Linked DNA regions of Homo sapiens: region 2 is linked to region 1. A link means that fine-mapping ties the variant in region 1 to the plasma level of a protein whose gene starts in the linked region. Region 1 holds a variant in brackets. A gene starts in the other region. All regions are shown on one strand. Distances are from middle to middle. Region 1 has its middle 140 kb from the start of FAM30A. Region 2 holds the start of TDP1 (tyrosyl-DNA phosphodiesterase 1).

Evidence for each region. PIP is the chance, under the fine-mapping model, that this variant and not a neighbour inherited with it causes the effect. The UK Biobank Pharma Proteomics Project read protein levels with antibody pairs (Olink). The fine-mapping took linkage between variants from a reference panel, not from the people measured, so its PIPs are less certain.
Region 2: it holds the start of TDP1, and the variant in region 1 is fine-mapped to the plasma level of the TDP1 protein (UK Biobank, PIP above 0.99).

What each region holds. Positions count from the first base shown.
Region 1 is chr14:106,051,011-106,059,642 of GRCh38, forward strand. It overlaps IGH and the pseudogene IGHV3-6. Among named protein-coding and RNA genes, the nearest start is that of FAM30A, 140 kb to the left of the region's middle. The variant C/T (reference allele first, on the strand shown) is at 3,431.
Region 2 is chr14:89,951,010-89,959,641 of GRCh38, forward strand. TDP1 (tyrosyl-DNA phosphodiesterase 1) reads left to right here and starts at 4,918. Exons shown (of 17, transcript NM_018319.4): 1 at 4,918-4,961; 2 at 5,569-5,791. EFCAB11 (EF-hand calcium binding domain 11) reads right to left here and starts at 3,721. Exons shown (of 6, transcript NM_145231.4): 1 at 3,577-3,721; 2 at 2,897-2,992. The coding sequence starts at 3,651. RefSeq lists enhancers at 3,450-3,950, 6,976-7,484 and a silencer at 5,016-5,245.

The sequences.
Region 1 (8,632 bases):
GAAGTAACTTGCTTTTGACTTTACAGGTTTATAGGTGGAAGGGACTTGCCTTGTCTCAGATGAGATGTTAGACTGTGGATTTTTGAGTTAATGCTGAAACAAGTTGACTCTGGGGGACTGTAGGAAAGGCATGACTGGTTTTGCAATGTGAGGACATGAGATTTGGGAGGGGCCATGGGGCAAAATAATATGGTTTGGCTGTGTCCCCACTCAAATCACATCTTGAATTTAACTCCCATAATTCCCAGTGTCATGGTAGGGACCCAGTGGTAGGTCATTGAATTATGGCTGCGGGTTTCTCCAGCACTGTTCATGTAATACTGCATGAGTTTCACGAGATCTGATGATTGTAAAAAGGGAGATCCCTGCACAAGCTCTCTTCTCTTGTCTGCCACCATGTCAGATGTGCCTTTCACCTTCCACCATGATTGTGAGGCCTTTCCAGTCATGTGGAAGTGTAAGTCCAATAAAACTCTTTCTATTGTAAACTTCCAAGTCTCTGGTATGTCTTTATCAGCAGCATGAAAACAGACTAATAGTCAGACATGATCTACTCAAGGCCTCTGCACATGGAGAAAAGCCAGTGAAAGTGGAAAATGTATTTTCTTGATTTATTGAAAAATACCTATAGAAAACACAACTGTGTGCCAGGACATCAAGCAGAATTTAAAAATTATGCAATTGGAATAAATGTGAAAATTACAATCATTTGCAGACACACATCTGTTCATATATCTTTCAATGAAATAAAGTAAATGCCAGTGTTCTGTGTAAAAATCAACAAAGAGTGTGTTGACCCTGAGAATACACCTCTCTCCCTCCCTTTAAAGGCAGGAAAATGCACATGGATCAGGTGTCAAGCTGCTGCTTTCTGACGTCTATGCTATGGCCCAGATCCTGTGGTCCACTCTAATGAAAAGAAGGACTCTTTAGTGATTCTGAGGCAGAGTCATTGCTGGAGTCACAGGGGTTCCCCCTTGGGTAATGTTGACTTGTAGTAGACTCAAATATGTTTTACACCTTCCTTGCACAGCACAGAAACCTAAGAATGTTTCACCCAATCCTCCGTCCATCTCTCCTTTACTCAGGGACAGATTTCTACCATATGCCATCAGCTTCTGCAGCCACATGTCACCCCCTGTGCATTTCCTGTCAAAAGAGTGGAAGTACTTCTTATGAAAAATGCATGAAAGCATAATCCAGTCTTGGACTTTCCATCTCAAAAGACCAATAATAACACATATATTTCAGCAAAATTATTTATCCTATGATTATGACTATATTTGGCAATTGTTTTGGCAAAAAACAAAAATCATGGTGTTGGATAATGAAGATGTAAGAAGGGCCAAGACTGTTACAACTTTTTATTGATGACCTGGGGCGTAGTAGGGGTAGGTGCTGACCTCAAGATAAGAGGACTGGAACCTCATTGCAACTGTCTGAGTGTACTCACGCAGGCCTGCCTGGGGTTCCAAGGCTTGCATGGCAAAGCTGTCAGTGCTGTCATCTATAATTCTAGCACCACATTTGAGGGAACAACATACTATAAAGTACATAATGAGAACTAGGGTAAGGAGTGCAATTCGCAGTTTTAAAAGTAAAGATTTGAACGCATTAGTTTATGGCTTTGTAGCCTACAAATAATTTAGAATTTCGTCCAAACTGCTGAAGAAAAAAAAACAAGAACAGCAAACAACAGGTGTACTATATTTTTAAAGCATAATTTTTTTCTCTCTTGTCCCCATTTTTATTTAAAACAAATCAAGATAGGACTGATTTATTTGCAAAATAAACTTTAGTCTTATTCATGGCCTTATTATTTGCATAAAGCACAATACAAATAATTATTGTTTACACAGGCTTTTAAAATTGGCTTTGGTGGAACTCTGTTCCATAAGGAATCTCAGATAAGACTTTTTTAAAGCCAAGCCCAGCCATGAGTTTTTACCATCAAATACCTGTAAGTCTGGTAAATTATTTTTCCTCTGGGGTCCCAGGAAAACATGGGGTTCTTGGGCCTGTTAGAAAGTGACATTCTTTACTTACCACTGGTCAGGAACCTTGTACAAAGACTGTGTGGACAAGGTACAGGCCAGTTTTCCCAAGGGGCTCTTATTGGCTGTATAAGTCAAGTTCGATTGCTTAAGGTGAAGCACGCCATTACAGTCAAAGCCTTGGTAAAATAACCAGTTTCTCCAATTGTGTCCTGTTGCAAAAAAAAAAAAATCTTACTGCACTTATGAAAAATCATATTGCCATAAGTTAAGGATATTCACAAAGAGTTTCCAAATTCTGGAGAAAGTGGACAGAGAGAAACAAATATTCTCCAAATTTTATGTACAGGACTATACTCAATTGTTGAAAGCTATAAATAGCTCAAAAGAAAAGTTTTCTTGGGCAACATTTTAAGTGAAAAGTCAAAAAAGATAGTCTTCTATTTGATAGTTTTATCTCTATACTATTGTAACCATCTTCAGAGTTTTTAATCAGAAATCTGCATGTAAGAGCACCTGTTAGAGTTTCATAGATGGTTATAAAACCATCACTTAAAGAGAAACAAAACAAGTCGATAAGGTCAAAACTCAAAGGGAGGAATTGAAGCCACCACTGCAAAGCTGCAACTGAAACAGTGAAAGAGCTGTGACCTAACCTGCTCCATCTTGCCTCAAACCTCCAGGTTGTCCTTGTGCATTCCTGGGTGTAGGCTTACCTAACATTGGGAGGAACTTAGTTTAGTTTATAGTTTAAAACAGAGACAATAACTGCCCTTTCCCAAAACAAATCTCCTTCGTCCTGGGGACTAGACTGCCTTTGGGGGACTAACGAATTAGCCAAAATATTAGAAATTATGTTTTAAGAGTCATGCAGCTGGTGGCTACAAATTCTAACCCTTCCTAGTTTGCTCCTGGGGATAAAATGACTATTATAAAGCCTAAGATCAATGCTTTAGATATTTTACAGACTCTGCACTTGATGGATCAGCTGGCATCACCCAGATCAATAAACTGGCTCATCCGATCTTGTGGCCCCCTCCTAGGAACTGACTCAGCACAAGACACCTTCAGCTCCCTATGATTTTATCTCTGACCTGATCAATCAGTACTCATGACTCACTGGCTGCCCCCAACCCACCAAGCTATCCTTAAAAAATCCCATTCTTGAATGCTTGGCGAGACTCATTTCAGTAACAATAAAACTCTGGTTTCCAATAAATAAATAAATAAATAAATAAATAAATGTCATGGCAACAATCAATTTTATGTGTCCCCTTGACTCATAGAGTCATTTATTCAGTTACACACTAACCTAGGTGTTGTACTGATCCTATAATATAAGTGTTAGTAAAGCCTGCCATCATTTTTTTCCTAAGTCAGGAAGATTGTCCTAGATAACCTAGGTGGGGCTGATTCCATCAGAGCATAAGAGATGA[C/T]GATGGGACTCCATGGAGGATGACAGTGTAGGTCTTCCCAGAAATTCCAACTCCATTGACCTGAAACCCTGTAGGATTTGCCTAGCCAGACCCTCCAATTGCTGTCACCCAGAGCTCACAGCACAATAGAGTGTCCATCCTTAGCTTTCCCCAAAGTCACAGATGAAGGAGGAAATTCTGTGACAGTGTGAGAAACAGAAGATCAGCTCTACATCAGTATCTCATTTGAGAAAGCTACCATTATCCCCTCAGTGACTAATGTCCACTTCATTTCCCAAATGCCTCCATGCACAGAAGACAGCAGGCGGGTCCAGGCAATGGTGAGTGGGAAAGTCCCCTCAGCCTCCCCAGGTCTCACAGGAGCCACAGCCTGGGCCACACCTGAGTTCCAGGTAACAGGCCTGAGCCCTGAGATTTAGACCACAGAAAACACACTCTCTGTTTTCTGGGAAGGGAAGAAAAGGGAACTATGAGAATGAAGTGTAGAGAGAAGAAAAATTGATTAGCAAGTAAGGGCCAGCTGGATCAGTTCTGAGTCAGATGTGCACAGTTTTGCCAGAGGAGGGAGAACAGCTGTAAAAACTGTCAGGATTTAAGGACCCTCCCATGGGTGAGACTCCCTCTTGGCCCAAGTCTGAATCCCAAACCTATTCTAATCAGAGATTTCCACGGAGGTCTCTGCCCTGAGCCTGACTGGAAAACACTCCCCAGGTTCCACTGGGCTTCCTCAGGACACTGATCAATGTGACCAAGGCAGGGTCATTTCTGCCCCCAAGGTGACACTCGGGCTTCTGTAGGGGTGAGGATGGGTCTTCCTGTTACAAAAAACAAAACAAAACAAACAAACAAAAAACAAATATGTGAGGGAAGTTTAGCAGTCACAGACATCAAATGTTAGTACAGAATTGCAAATCTAGAGAAGTTCCCTCGGGTAATTTGGTAACAACGCAGCCCCAGATCAAGACAGGAAACCCAGCCCTTGTAGCACCTGCACTTGCCCCTGGGGTCAGCACAGTGCACAGTGTCCCAGGCTTTCCCTGGTTGTCCCAGGTACCCTGAAGGGAGGTTTGTGTCTGGGCTCACACTGACTTCTCCTTACCGTATCTCTCACAGAGTCATATGCAGCTGCATCCTCTGCCCTCAGTCTGTTCATTTGCAGATACAGTGAGTTTTTCGTATTGTCTCTGGAAATGGTGAATCGGCCCTTCACAGAGTCTGCGTAGTACATGGTACTACCACTACCACTAATAACTGGGACCCACTGCAGACCCTTCCCTGGAGCCTGGGGGACCCAGTGCGTGCTATGGCTACTGAAGGTGAATCCAGAGGCTGCACAGGAGAGTCTCTGGGACACCCAGGCTTTGTCAAGTTTGCTCCAGACTCTACCAGCTGCATCTCACACTGGACACCTGCAAACACAGAGACATCCTGGTAAGAAACTGCCACACATATCCACTGTTTCGCTCACTTATGTCCATTCACACTCAATAGCTCTAGTTCTCCATAAATCACCTTTTAAAATAGCAGCAAGGAAAACCCACCTCAGCCCCAACTCCATGGTGAATCCTGTATGTTCAGTGTTGACCAAGCAGAAACACCTGGGAATCCCGGGGCTGAGGCTCCTCTGCCAGAGCTGCAGGGTCAGGGTTTAGCTGGTTTTCATCAGCATGGGGAGGGCCCTATTTGCGTGTCTCCTGCTACACAGAGAGCTCTGGGGTGGGAACCCTGAGGAGACGGCAGACCCCAGATAAAATGACAGGGCCCCGCAGGAGTTGGGTGACAATTATGGTATTTGGGAAATACACTGTCTTATTATGAAAATGTGTTGTGATAAACATTTTGCACTATTATATTTTTACATATTTGTGCAAATTATGTTCTGTAGAAGTCAATGGTTTCTCCATTTACAGATGTGAAATAAACCCACACATGGAGGAGGGGCTGTGTGTGTCTCATGTCTGAGATGAATGAGCCCTGGTAGCTTGGCCTGTGCTCCACATCAGTGGCCCCAGTTACTCCCTGAACCAACTCCAGGTAAGAATTGGACATGCCTAGTGTGCTTTGTGGAACCCACTTCCTGTATTGAGAACTTGAGTGATTTTTGTGGCACTCTAGCATTCACCTAAAAATAAGGAGAGAACTAGGGTTCAGGAGGTAAATTCTCAGATATTTCTGACTTTTAATGGATATTTTGTATCTTTATACCACCGCTTTTGGTCTAATTTTTCATTTGTTTGCTTGCAATAAATTTTGTGAGTGTTAATTGGCAGATAATACACTTCACGTATTTAAAGTGTAGAATTGAAAACATGATGTAAGCGTCATCATTACTGAGGTGGACAAGTGAGTTCCCCTCAACATTTTCTCTTGTTCTTCTGTATGTTTCCACATTTCCCCTTCCTTTATTCTACCCTTTTCCCAGGTAACTACTCATCTTTTGTATATTACTTTAGATTTTTTTCATTTGAAATAAATTACATAAATGGAGTAATATAGTACATATTCTTATTTGTCTGGCTTATTTTACTCAGCATAAATACTTAGATACTTTTCCTTGTTGTTCTGTGTACCAGAAATATATTTATTATAAATGTTGAGTAGTATTCCAGTGAAAAAATTTACCAGAATTTGTTTCTCTATTAGGCAGCTGAAAAATGTTTGGATTCTTTTATTATTCTGGATCTCACTAAAAAATATGCTGCTAAGCTTAAAAATGTACATAGATGAGAAATATATATATATACACACATATTTATTTATTTATTTATTTATTTATTTTTAGAGACAGAGTCTCACTCTGTCACCCAGGCTGGAGTGCAGTGGCGCGATCTCAGCTCACTGCAAGCTCCACCTCCCGGGTTCACGCCATTCGCCTGCCTCAGCCTCCCAAGTAGCTGGGACTACTGGTGCGCACCACCACACCTGGCTAATTTTTTGTATTTTTAGTAGAGATGGGGTTTCACCGTGTTAGCCAAGATGGTCTCGATCTCCTGACCTCGTGATCCACCCACCTCGGCCTCACAAAGTGCTGGGATTACAGGCATGAGCCACCGCACCGGGCCCATATATTCATTCTTACAACAATAGTATCAACAATAACAGATAAACAGAAAAGATGGAAGTTTGCAAATTTTACTTAATGCTTCAGATAATTGAGGGTTGAAAACAAACAAAATATTTGAAATCTAGGGAGAGGCAAGTTCCTGTAGAGAGTAATGAAGCCAGAGTATGAAATTCCCTGAGGCAGAGGCTGTCATATAAAATGTAGGCTATTACAAGATGAAGAACAAATATACACTGGATTGCTTGAAGTCGAGTGTGTTAGGCATGTTATAGTGAGAAATTCTAAGGGACCTCATACTGGAGAGTTGCCCTAATCTCTTGAATCATTTACCCCTGCAAAACATCTTCCTTTCCCATAGTATCTGTCTGGGAGAGAATGAGCTCACACTTCTGAAATGCATCCAGACCCAGTTCTCTGATCCCCACTACAAAACTAAGATATTACCCTGCAGGAGCAAGCCATGAAAATCAGCATCCTAGGGCACTGGTGCAGCCCCTTAAGAATTGAGGTATGAACAGAGGTTCCCATCAAAGCTCTATTGAGAAGCAGCTCCCCTCACTTTCTTACGGAATCAGAGCTTTAATCTGCAGGTCATGGCAGCAGATCTGGAAGTTGGGGACACCAACAGAGATTATGAGAGCTGTGGGAGGGAACAACTGGGGAAAACAAGAGGAATCTGCCCCAGGGGAAGGAGCAAGAACACACAGACCAGCATCTCATCTGGAGGAGGGTTGGGAACACTTGGAAAGTCAGCTCACACTCAGGATCACAATGATTTTCTGGAAATATGACCCCATGAGAGGTCAGAGACAATTCCTTTAGTATAATGTCTTCCACCAATTTCACAATTGGCAATTAAATATAACACTTTAATCCACCTTAAGAATCTGAAAGAGATTCTCTGTAGAATGGAATGATTGTGTATGAATCATGCCATGAAACTGTCTTCACGGTGACTGGATTTGCCTGTTGATTTTGACATGATGACCATGATGTTGATGACGAAGATGACATTCTCAGAAAAATAACCCAGGTTCAAAGAGCTAACTGCAGAGTCATATTTATGTTTGTTTTACTTCGGGACAGAAAGGGCGTGAGGTCTAAATAACGTAATAAATGGTCTCCTGAGGTTTGGATGCTGTTAAGCAAAATAAGACAACCCGAGGTGGCGGTCACAGGCTCCCTGGCTGGTTCCTCGCTGCCTCTGCTCCTCACTGAGGCTCTGTCTTGTGTGAGTTCTGAGCATCTCCTGCGGGTCCTCTGGTGCCCATCCAGCCCAGATAAAGGAGGGCTGGGGGTTCTGTTTCTCAGGTGCTCAGTCCTGTGCCTGGCTCCAGTTCAGGAGCTCAGCCTGTCCTGTGTGCTGAAGCTTTTAGCTCTCCCGTGCAACCTCGCCTGTACACTGAGTTTCTTCACAGCAAAGTGACAGGGTCAGCTTCACAGACATCGCTGCAGGCAATTTTCAGCAAATCTAATTTTAGTTTGACTATGTAATTCAGCAATCATGTTCATTGTGGTGTAAGTGACTGACATATCCACACACACACAAACAAACACACATGCACACACACACGCACACACACACACCCAAACTGCATGGACATTCATTTACATTTCCCCCAAACTGGACACATTTTGTATTATTCCTGATAAGTTCAGAAAGTTCTGAGGTTTTAATCATAAACTAAACATAACATTTTCCATAAACAAAATTAGTAATGAATAAGATGAGAAAATCGGGTCAGAAAAATCAAGATTGAGTTATTACCCGCAGTCTAATGGTGGTAAGTTACATAATGGAGCTGTGATGAGACAGGCTCCCAGGTGCTCTAATTCTTAACCACTCAATTACAGCTGACCAGTAATCTCCGAGAGTGAGGAAGCTAGAGGTTCCCCACATGGGAAAGCTCTCTGACTCCACAAAACTTCGCTGAGCTTCTCTGCAGGCTCAGAGGTGTGCAGACTCCTACCCCAGATTCTGCAGTCAGGCAAATCTCTGCTCTTTCCCAGGGGACACAAGAGATAGTGTGGGTAAGGGCCAGATGTGCTCTACTCAAGGTCTCTGCACATGGAGAAAAACCAGTGAATGTGGAAAATGCATCATCTCGATCCTTCGAACAATGCCTGTGAAAAACTCA
Region 2 (8,632 bases), 16 Mb before region 1:
ATGGAAACCAAGGAGCCCCAAGTCTATCTCCAGCCCTATCCCCTCCACCCAATTTCAGATTGCTACATCTCAGGGAAGCAGTAAAATCTAACGGTGGATTTTCACCACCATAACCTCAATAGCCAGCATATTATTTAACGAGTGAATGCACCTGGAATGCTCATAGCTGCCTCAAACTCAATGTGTTCCAATCGAAACTCACTGACTTCCTCTGAACCTACTCTTAAATTTTCTCTTAATTGGTGGCATTGCTATCCCTTCAGTCCCAGTGGTCATGTCACTCTTACCACCACCACATCCAATCAGTCATCAGGGCCTAACTTGTCCCACCACCCACAAAGTGTTCCTAGATACTTATCAGAGTAGTCTATCTTCTCTAGTCTAAATGACCACCCAGACTGTTATAGTTACCACTAGAATTAGGCCTTCCTTCTTTGCTCCCTTCACTTTGTTTTTCAATCTCTTCTCTTTCTTGGTATCTATCACAGTTTTATGTCTTTCTATATTAAACTCTGAACTGCTTCGAAGTAGAGACTGTGTTTCATTCATCTTTATATCACTAGCAACTAGCAAGTACTCCTTTTATTAAATAGAAACAATAAATTTCATTGTGTATGGGTGGGCACAGTAGCTTATGCCTGTAATCCCAGCACTTTGGGAGGCTGAGGTGGGCGGATCACTTGAGGTCAGGAGTTGGAGACCAGACTGGCCAACATTGGTGAAACCCCATCTCTACTAAAAACACAAAAAAAAAAAAAGAAAAAAAAGAACCGGGTATGGTCGTGTGCACCTGTAGTCCCAGCTACTCAAGAGGATGAGGCAGGAGAATTGCTTGAACCTGGAAAGTGGAGGTTGCAGTGAGCCTAGATCACGCCACTACACTCTAGCCTGGGTGACAGAGCAAGACTGCATCTCAACAAATAAATAAACTTAATTATGTAAAAAACTGCATGAATGTATAAGTGATTTATTATATAAGTATTTTATTGCTTCATGACCTGCAGTCAGTGAATATTTCATTTGCTCAAAAGCAATATTAAAAAATTAAACCCCAAACCTCAACCTAGTCTAAAAAAATCTGTTGAATTTCACAGAAATTAAGTGTCACCTGCATAATAAAAGTTCATTGTACAAATGACTAAGTTTATAGGTGACATGCTATTAGTAAATACCGTTTAGTGACCTGCGGTTACTAAATAGTTCATTTGCTTAAAAAATAAAATAGAAAACCTCACCTCAATATGAAAAGTAAAATCTGTTAAATTTCATGGAGTGTATGTACAGTATGTTACATCACTGTATCTGTCATTAAATTCCTCATTCTAAAATTGAAACCAAATAGACTCAAGGGTGATAAAGGCAAAAATGAGACAAGATACCTTTCCAGGTGAATCCAAGTTAAATACAATGCTTCACAGGCTGACTCTTTTCAGCTGACCTGCTTTGTAATTCCAACTGAAATGATTACAGGTAAACAGGAGAGCTGCCATTTCTAAGAGTCAGCCCTGACTACTTCTCTGAGCTCCATAATAAGCTTCTCAGTAACTAGGCAGCCCCTCATAGCTGAGCCACTCTGAACCCACCTGAGCTGTTCATGCAACCTACTTGGGTCAAGAGAATATATTAATACTTATTGTGCATCACAACTTCACAGTAAGTATGTTCTGTTGACACAAATAGGGCGGAGAGGCATGACATCACAGGGTCCCTGGCTTTGCTGGGCTTTCAATCTGACAGAAAGGCACAGTCCACTCATGAGGAGAACAGCTGGGCCCTAATTAACTGCCAAGCTGTCTGGTCTAATGAGAGTGAGGGATGGCATTCCAGGCTGAGCTCTGAGTGCTTCCTTTGCTTGATGGTGGCAGCTCAATTTCTTGAATCTGGACAATATCTTGACTCTGACTAATTCCAGCTTAACAAGAAGGGTGTTGTCTCTCGAATGAATGTAACAGGAAAGCAGAAAAGCATAAAGACAGGGGTGAGCAGGAAACTTGCCCTACTCAAGCAGGAGGTTCATGGAGGCTCAGCTCAACTCTCATTATTGGTGAATTGGTGCAATCTTTTCTGGAGAGCAAATATCTAACAAAATTTTAAACGTACATATTCCATGACCTAGCAGTTATACTTCTAGGAACTTATTCCACAGATATACAGCCACAAGGACATAAATGTGTGTATCATTGCAGCAATGTTGGCAGAAAAAAAAAAAAAACCCCACCTATATAACCCCAGACAGGAACCTGGCTAAAAAGAATATGCAACCATATTTTAAAATGCAGTAGTGGTGTGTGCTTTTAGGTTGATATATTGTTAAATGAGAAAAGCAAGTTAAAGTAGGCACAATATTTACCCATTTATGTTTTCAATAAAAGACTATGCATATGTATGTCATGGATAGAAAATTTCAGAATTACACAAAAAAACTGTTAATGGTAATCCCCTAGGAGTGGGACCCTCTGGTAGGCGGCGAGCGGATTTTATGCTCAACTTTATACCTTTCTGCACTGTTTTAATTTTTTGACCGTGGATGTATTTTATAAACAAAGCAACAAAAGTAAAACGAGAAAGAGACTATGTCATGTCCTATGTAAATTTCTCCTGTTACCAACACTCCCCTCTCAGTCTTCCCTCTTGGCACCTCTCTAGCATCTTGTATTTATAGTAGTTATTAGCAGCCTGGTGGTGAGATAGGCTTGTGTAGACTCCAGTGGAAAAGATTTCTACTTCATCTCTGGGCTGAGGTGTTAAGAGGAAGCTAAAATTCAGCACTGGACACATCTCTGAAATTGCTTATAAAGCAATTTATAAACATCCTAAGCTAGCCCTGTGAACTTTTCTTAGGATCCATTCACCTTTGATCGTCTACCCCATCCCCAAATATATAAGAAAGCTCTACCTTGGAGGGCTTGTACCCAAACAGCATTACAACAGCAGTTTTAAAGTCCTCTCTGCTGAGATATCCTTTGTGATCTTCATCACATGCTTTAAATACCTGAAGAACATTAAATAGCTTTAGTTAATGAGACAGAAATGGTTTATTTTTATTACTAGTTTATTATACAGTTTGGACCTCGAAAATCTAAAACTTGGCCCAGCGGTAGAGTATGAAAATAGAATTTCATTATCCCAATATTAATTCTCAAGAAATCTTAAAGATGGACTGAAATTTTCTTAAACATGGGCTGAAATTTCCCTCAAAGTGCAAACGAGTTAACCGCTAGGTGACGCAAATTAATTCATTTAGGCCACTGAGATAAATTCTACCCAAAATTCAGTCCTGGAGTTAGGAAGGTGAGGCAAAGGGGCTGGCTTTGAAAGGCGGGAGAGATGCAGACTCAAGGTTACCATTAATAGACTATATAGAGAGAAAGGAGATGGAACTTGGAGGTAGCCGTAGTCCTGGACGGGGAGCCAGGAGCCCTGCAGCTCCAGGATCAGTCATTAACCACGACCCTTTGGACAGGCAGCCCAGGTCTTATCTGCACACCCGGCAGAGTGAGACCCAGACACGGGAGAGGAAGCGAGAGGCCCAGGCCAAGCTGAAGTCCGAGGCTCAGTCGCCCTCCGGAAACCTACTTCCACCCACTTCCTGTGTTCCGAGGGACTGGCTTCCCACGTCCGCGACCTGGCTCTGGCCTCGGAGAAGAACATCGCGACTACAACAACCGAGCCCCAGCAACCCAACCAGCTACCACCGCTTTCCCAGCCTGGCTGGCAGCCTACCGCGGCCACGCCCACCGCGGCTCAGGAAGCCGAACTTCACCGCGCAACTCCGACGTCTCCTCCCATTGGACAACCTGCCAGCCACTCGCGTTAATCCCGCAGGGCTATTGGCCAGAGTCTTTGTTTAATTACGTTTCCTTGGAGCCGCCCTGGCAGTGAGGCGCCCAGGCCTGCCCCCAGCACTTGGCTCCACCCCCTGACTGTCCCTTAACTCGTTGAGCGCGGCTGGAAATCCAAGCGCTTCTAGGTGCTGGTTCAATGCCTGGTTCATGATTTATTTCATTCTCTCCCTCCATCTTGCAATAGGTTACTTTTAATCATTTAGATCTATGACACTATGCTAAACGTTATAGGAGACAAAAAGACTGTGAACAAACAAGAAGAACCAAACGAAAAGAGCCAAGTCCAGGATTCTCGTTCAGATCAGCAAGTCATTGGGATCGAGCTCCTAGGGCAGCTACTACATCTGTTATGTCCTCAAGATAATCCCAGCACCTAGCACTGTGCCTGGCACAAAGTAGATCTTCAATGAAAGAACGAAACGAGCCGTTATATTTACACAGATGTATTTCACTCAGTCCTCTGGAAGAGATGCCTAGTGTGAAAGAGATTCCAAGAATAAATACCATAAACAGCACCGAGCCCAAATCCCACAGCAAACATCCTTATTAAAGGCAAGGAACGTGGGGCGAGTTCCTTTTCTCAGAAGATTTTACGAGAACGCAACTGTTGCGAAGAAGGAACAGACATTCGAGGTTCTGAGTCCAATGGGAACTCATTTAACTTTTTATTTTGCAGCAGATTTCAAAGTCTGCACCCAGCCCCTCCCAGGACACAGGTCTCCTTGCAGCTGCCTTTAACCTAAGCGTATCCTCTCTCCACTTTAAACCAAACGCCGCTGCATGGAGCCCTGGGAGCCTGAGCCATGAGAATCCTGTAAAGAGGGTGAGTCTTGCTATTAGTTAACTAGAGCGAAGTTAGGGGACGCCTTTCTGGTTCTCCTCTCGTTTTAAGAAGTCTCCAGGAAGTAAGCCAAGAGCTAGGAGAGACCAGGTTTCCCCAGCCCCGTCCTGGGTAAACACCCGGCGGGCTTTAGGACCCAGCGGTGGGCTCTCCGGAAGGGGAAGGGGCCGGGCCTCGAGGCACAAGCCGCTGCCGCCAGGGTTTGAACTGCGCGCATGCGCGGCGGCCGCCGAAGGGGCGGGATCCGAGGCAAGCGTTGGTTCTGTGCGCCTCAGGTACGTGTTGGGCGGCAGTGGGCGCGGACTCGGTGCGGTCTCTCGCGGGCTGCGGTCGGGCCCGGGATCCTGCTCCTGGCCGAGTCGCGGTGCGCGGGCTGCTGGGGTCCGGCAGGGCTGGAGGCGGACCGCGAGGAAGCGGCGCGGCCGGGAAGATGGGGCAGGGTCGCCTCGGCCCCGGGGCCTCGGTTTCCTCCGATCACAGCGCCTCAGGGGGCGCGCACGGGCGCTGCGGAGACCTGTGTCCTGCCGGGGCGCGGCGCTAGGGGCCCCTGCTCGGGTTTTTATTCCCAGACCTAAGCTTACAGGTGCGTGGTCCCAGAAAGTGAGTAGGAAAGCGCCCACCACGTGCCAGGCGCTTAAGCTTTCTGTGCTCGGTTTCCCAGTATAGGAGGACGGTCACGGTACGTAGTATAGAGTTGTCCTGAGGGTGAAGCGAGTTTACACTTGGTGAGGCGCTTCGAATCGTGCCTGGCCGGCCCCAAATGAGCACGCAGTAAGGTTAGCAGCTGCTGCCGTCACTTCCTCACGTTCTGAATCTGCTCCGTCCCCAACGCCTTCAGCAAGAGCCCTCTCACTTCCTTTGTCTTCAACCCATTCTCCGCAGAGTTGGAGCACACAGCTGTATTAAAAAGGCAAATCGAAGGCCGGGCGCGGTGACTCACGCCTGTCATCCTAGCACTTTGGGAGGCCGAGGCGGCTGAATCACTTGAGGTTAGGAGTTTGAGATCAGCCCGGGCAACATGGTGAAACCCCGTCTCTACAAAAATAGAAAAATTAGCCGAGCGTGATGGTGGATGCCTGTAATCCTAGCTCCTCGGGAGGCTAAGGTAGGAGAATTGCTTGAACCTGGGAGGCAGAGAGGTTGGAGTGAGCCGAGATTGCGCCATTGCGCTCCAGCCTGAGCGGCAGAGCGAGACTCTGTCTCAAAAAAATAAATGTAAATCGGACTCCCCTTCTTAAAGCCCTCAGTGGGGTCCCATTGATCATTGCATAAAATCCAATTTCTTTAACAAGTCTTCTCCCCTCACCCGCTTCGGACCACTGCCTGCCTTGCCTAAGTCCTTTCTTATGACCTCTTTCCCACCTCTGCCGGCTGGGTTCCCTCTACTTGGGAATGCTCTTCACCCCATCATTTAGACAGCAGGTTCCTTTTGGCCCTCTGGGTCTCATTTATATGTTACTTTTTAAGTATATTCCAAAGGTCACCCCTATTTTTCTGTCTCATACTTATAAAATGTAATGAATGTCTAACTCATCTTGGCTATTAAAATTTTTATGTGTGGGTCTGTCTCTTCTGCCCTGAAATTAGCTCTGCTAGGGTAGAAACTATATTGTTAACGCCTCATTCCCAGTTTTTGGTACATAATAGCTGCCCAGTAAGTTATTGAATGAATGAACTCCAGGGGGTAAGCATGATATCCATTTCACAGACTAAAAAACTGAGGCTCAGCAGTTAACTAACCTGCCCAAGTGCACATTTACTCCCTAGTCATGGCCGGGTTTGAGACAAGGGACCATGTTTGCCTATTACTGGCCACACAGGAACTCAATTGAGGAGCATGGCCTCCAGGCCCAGCTGATGGTCTTTAAGCTCAATGAGAAGGAGCAGCTGGAGGTGAAAGAGAAATGCCCCAGCTGGGTCTCATATAGTGGGGAGTGAGGAAACACTAGTAGCTCTAAATGGAGTACCCTTTTATATCCACAACATGTTTTAAAGTCCTTAATAAAAGTGCTAACAGTGTCCTGAGCTAGCATTTGGTGGGAAGATTTCTTAGATTTTTCATGTTAGTGCAGTGTTTGCCAAATTTCACTCACACTCACCTGCCTTCTCCCCAGTTTGCTTTATTCTCTTAACACATGACACAGGATTTATTTCAGGGCCGCTTTGCCAGCTGGAGACCTCCAGCCCTGGGCTGGCTGCAGGAGGTGCCCTGCCCACTCAGCCTGGCAGAATGCATTTGTCTTTCATCCCCGCCCAGATCCCGTGGCCACTATGACTGCATGCTCAGCCCGCGAGGAGTCGGTTTGTGAGTGAGTGAGCAAGCCTGGAGGCCCGGCTGGCTGTTCCAAGTGCTGGCCCAGTCACAGGCTCCATGTAGGGCTTGTGGATGGCCTGGGTGTATGGCAAGTGACTCTGGTAGCAGATTCTGGTGTCCAGACGAGGGGGATGCAGTAGTGCCCAAACACTTGGAGACACCAGGCAAATAGAGATGTATTAACAGCTCTTTTAGTCCCACCATCTGCAGCCCAATGAATGGGGGTGTGTGGCAGCCAGCAGCTCCCTCTCCCATTGCTTCACTAGCGGAACGGAGTGCTACAGGGTTATAGCTCTATTTGCACTCGCTGTTTAGCTGGTCCGAATTTCTTGTCCTGCGTCCAAGAATAATGAGGTTAGGCTGACAACCGAAGGGGAAAAGGGCGGAGGTGAGTTTTACTCAGTGATGAGACAGTTCTCAGCAGAGACGGGACCCCAAGTGGATGGCCCCTGCCCTGACCCCAAGGTGGGCAGTTCGCTGGTGTGACTGAGTCTGGGGCTTTTATGGGCTCAGAATGAGGGAGTGTGTGCTCCATGGTTTGTGAGTATGCAAAAAAGGCTAAAACAAAGGCACCACTCAAAGGTGGGCATGACAATGTAAAAAACCAATTAGGGAAGGGTAGATATATGTAAAGTAGGTGAAGGGTGGGGATTGATCAGAGGAAAGTGTGCCAAGTGGGAAGAGGGGTTATCAATCCGGTCCGTGGATTTACCCAACACTTGTAGCTTGGCTTTCAGGCTTTAAACTGTCTTTGGTTTGCAGGTGGGGTTTCACTGGGGCCCTGCCCCTATCTGCCTAGGGATTTGTCTGCCTCCTGCCGCTATCACATAGACTATCATATACTTAATATTTTTGTTTGAATCCAATCATTCTTTTACATAAAATAAACTTTATTTTGCTATTTCAAATATAACGTAGCCATAAGATACCTTCTGTTGATGGTAAACAAAATTGTTGGTGCCTGCAGAAGAGCCCAAACCCTGCTATTTGTTCAAAATCAAGATTAAAAGCATTTCTACAACACTACAACTTTCTTCTTGATTTAAACAGGGAGTTTGGATTGGAATGGAAAGGGAAGTACTTTCATAATGTCAGGTCCCAATCACTTCCACTTCAGGAAACACTGTGCCGTTCTGATTGAGTGCCAGGATTCAGAATCAACACAGCTATATTGTATTCTGATTCTTTCAGTACCACTTACAAAAAGTGTGACTTCAGATTTATGCTGTACCAAGCACTGCCCAGGCAGGGAAGACAGATGATAAACAATTGAAGGAAAGCTCTCAGGTTCTACATTTCTTAAAACTGTATGACTTGATTACAAAGCACTCTGAAATGCTGGGCACCAGAGCCTCTATGAGGGAAGTAAATTCTGTTACTGGTGACCAGTTATCCAAAGTAAAAGTTTGATATTGGTGTTTACTAGCAGTTCTTTTCCAACTGGGCGGGAGCCTTGATGTCATAAAGAGGTTGGTAAGCTGCTACATTTAACAACAAGACACAATTTTATTAGTCTGTTGCACTAAATTGTAACCCAATAAATTGTATTAGGTTGTAATAAGCAACTCAGGCATATTTTTGAGTTTCAGCAGGTCCAAAACTTTATAGAGCAGAACCCCAAAAAAAGGCTTT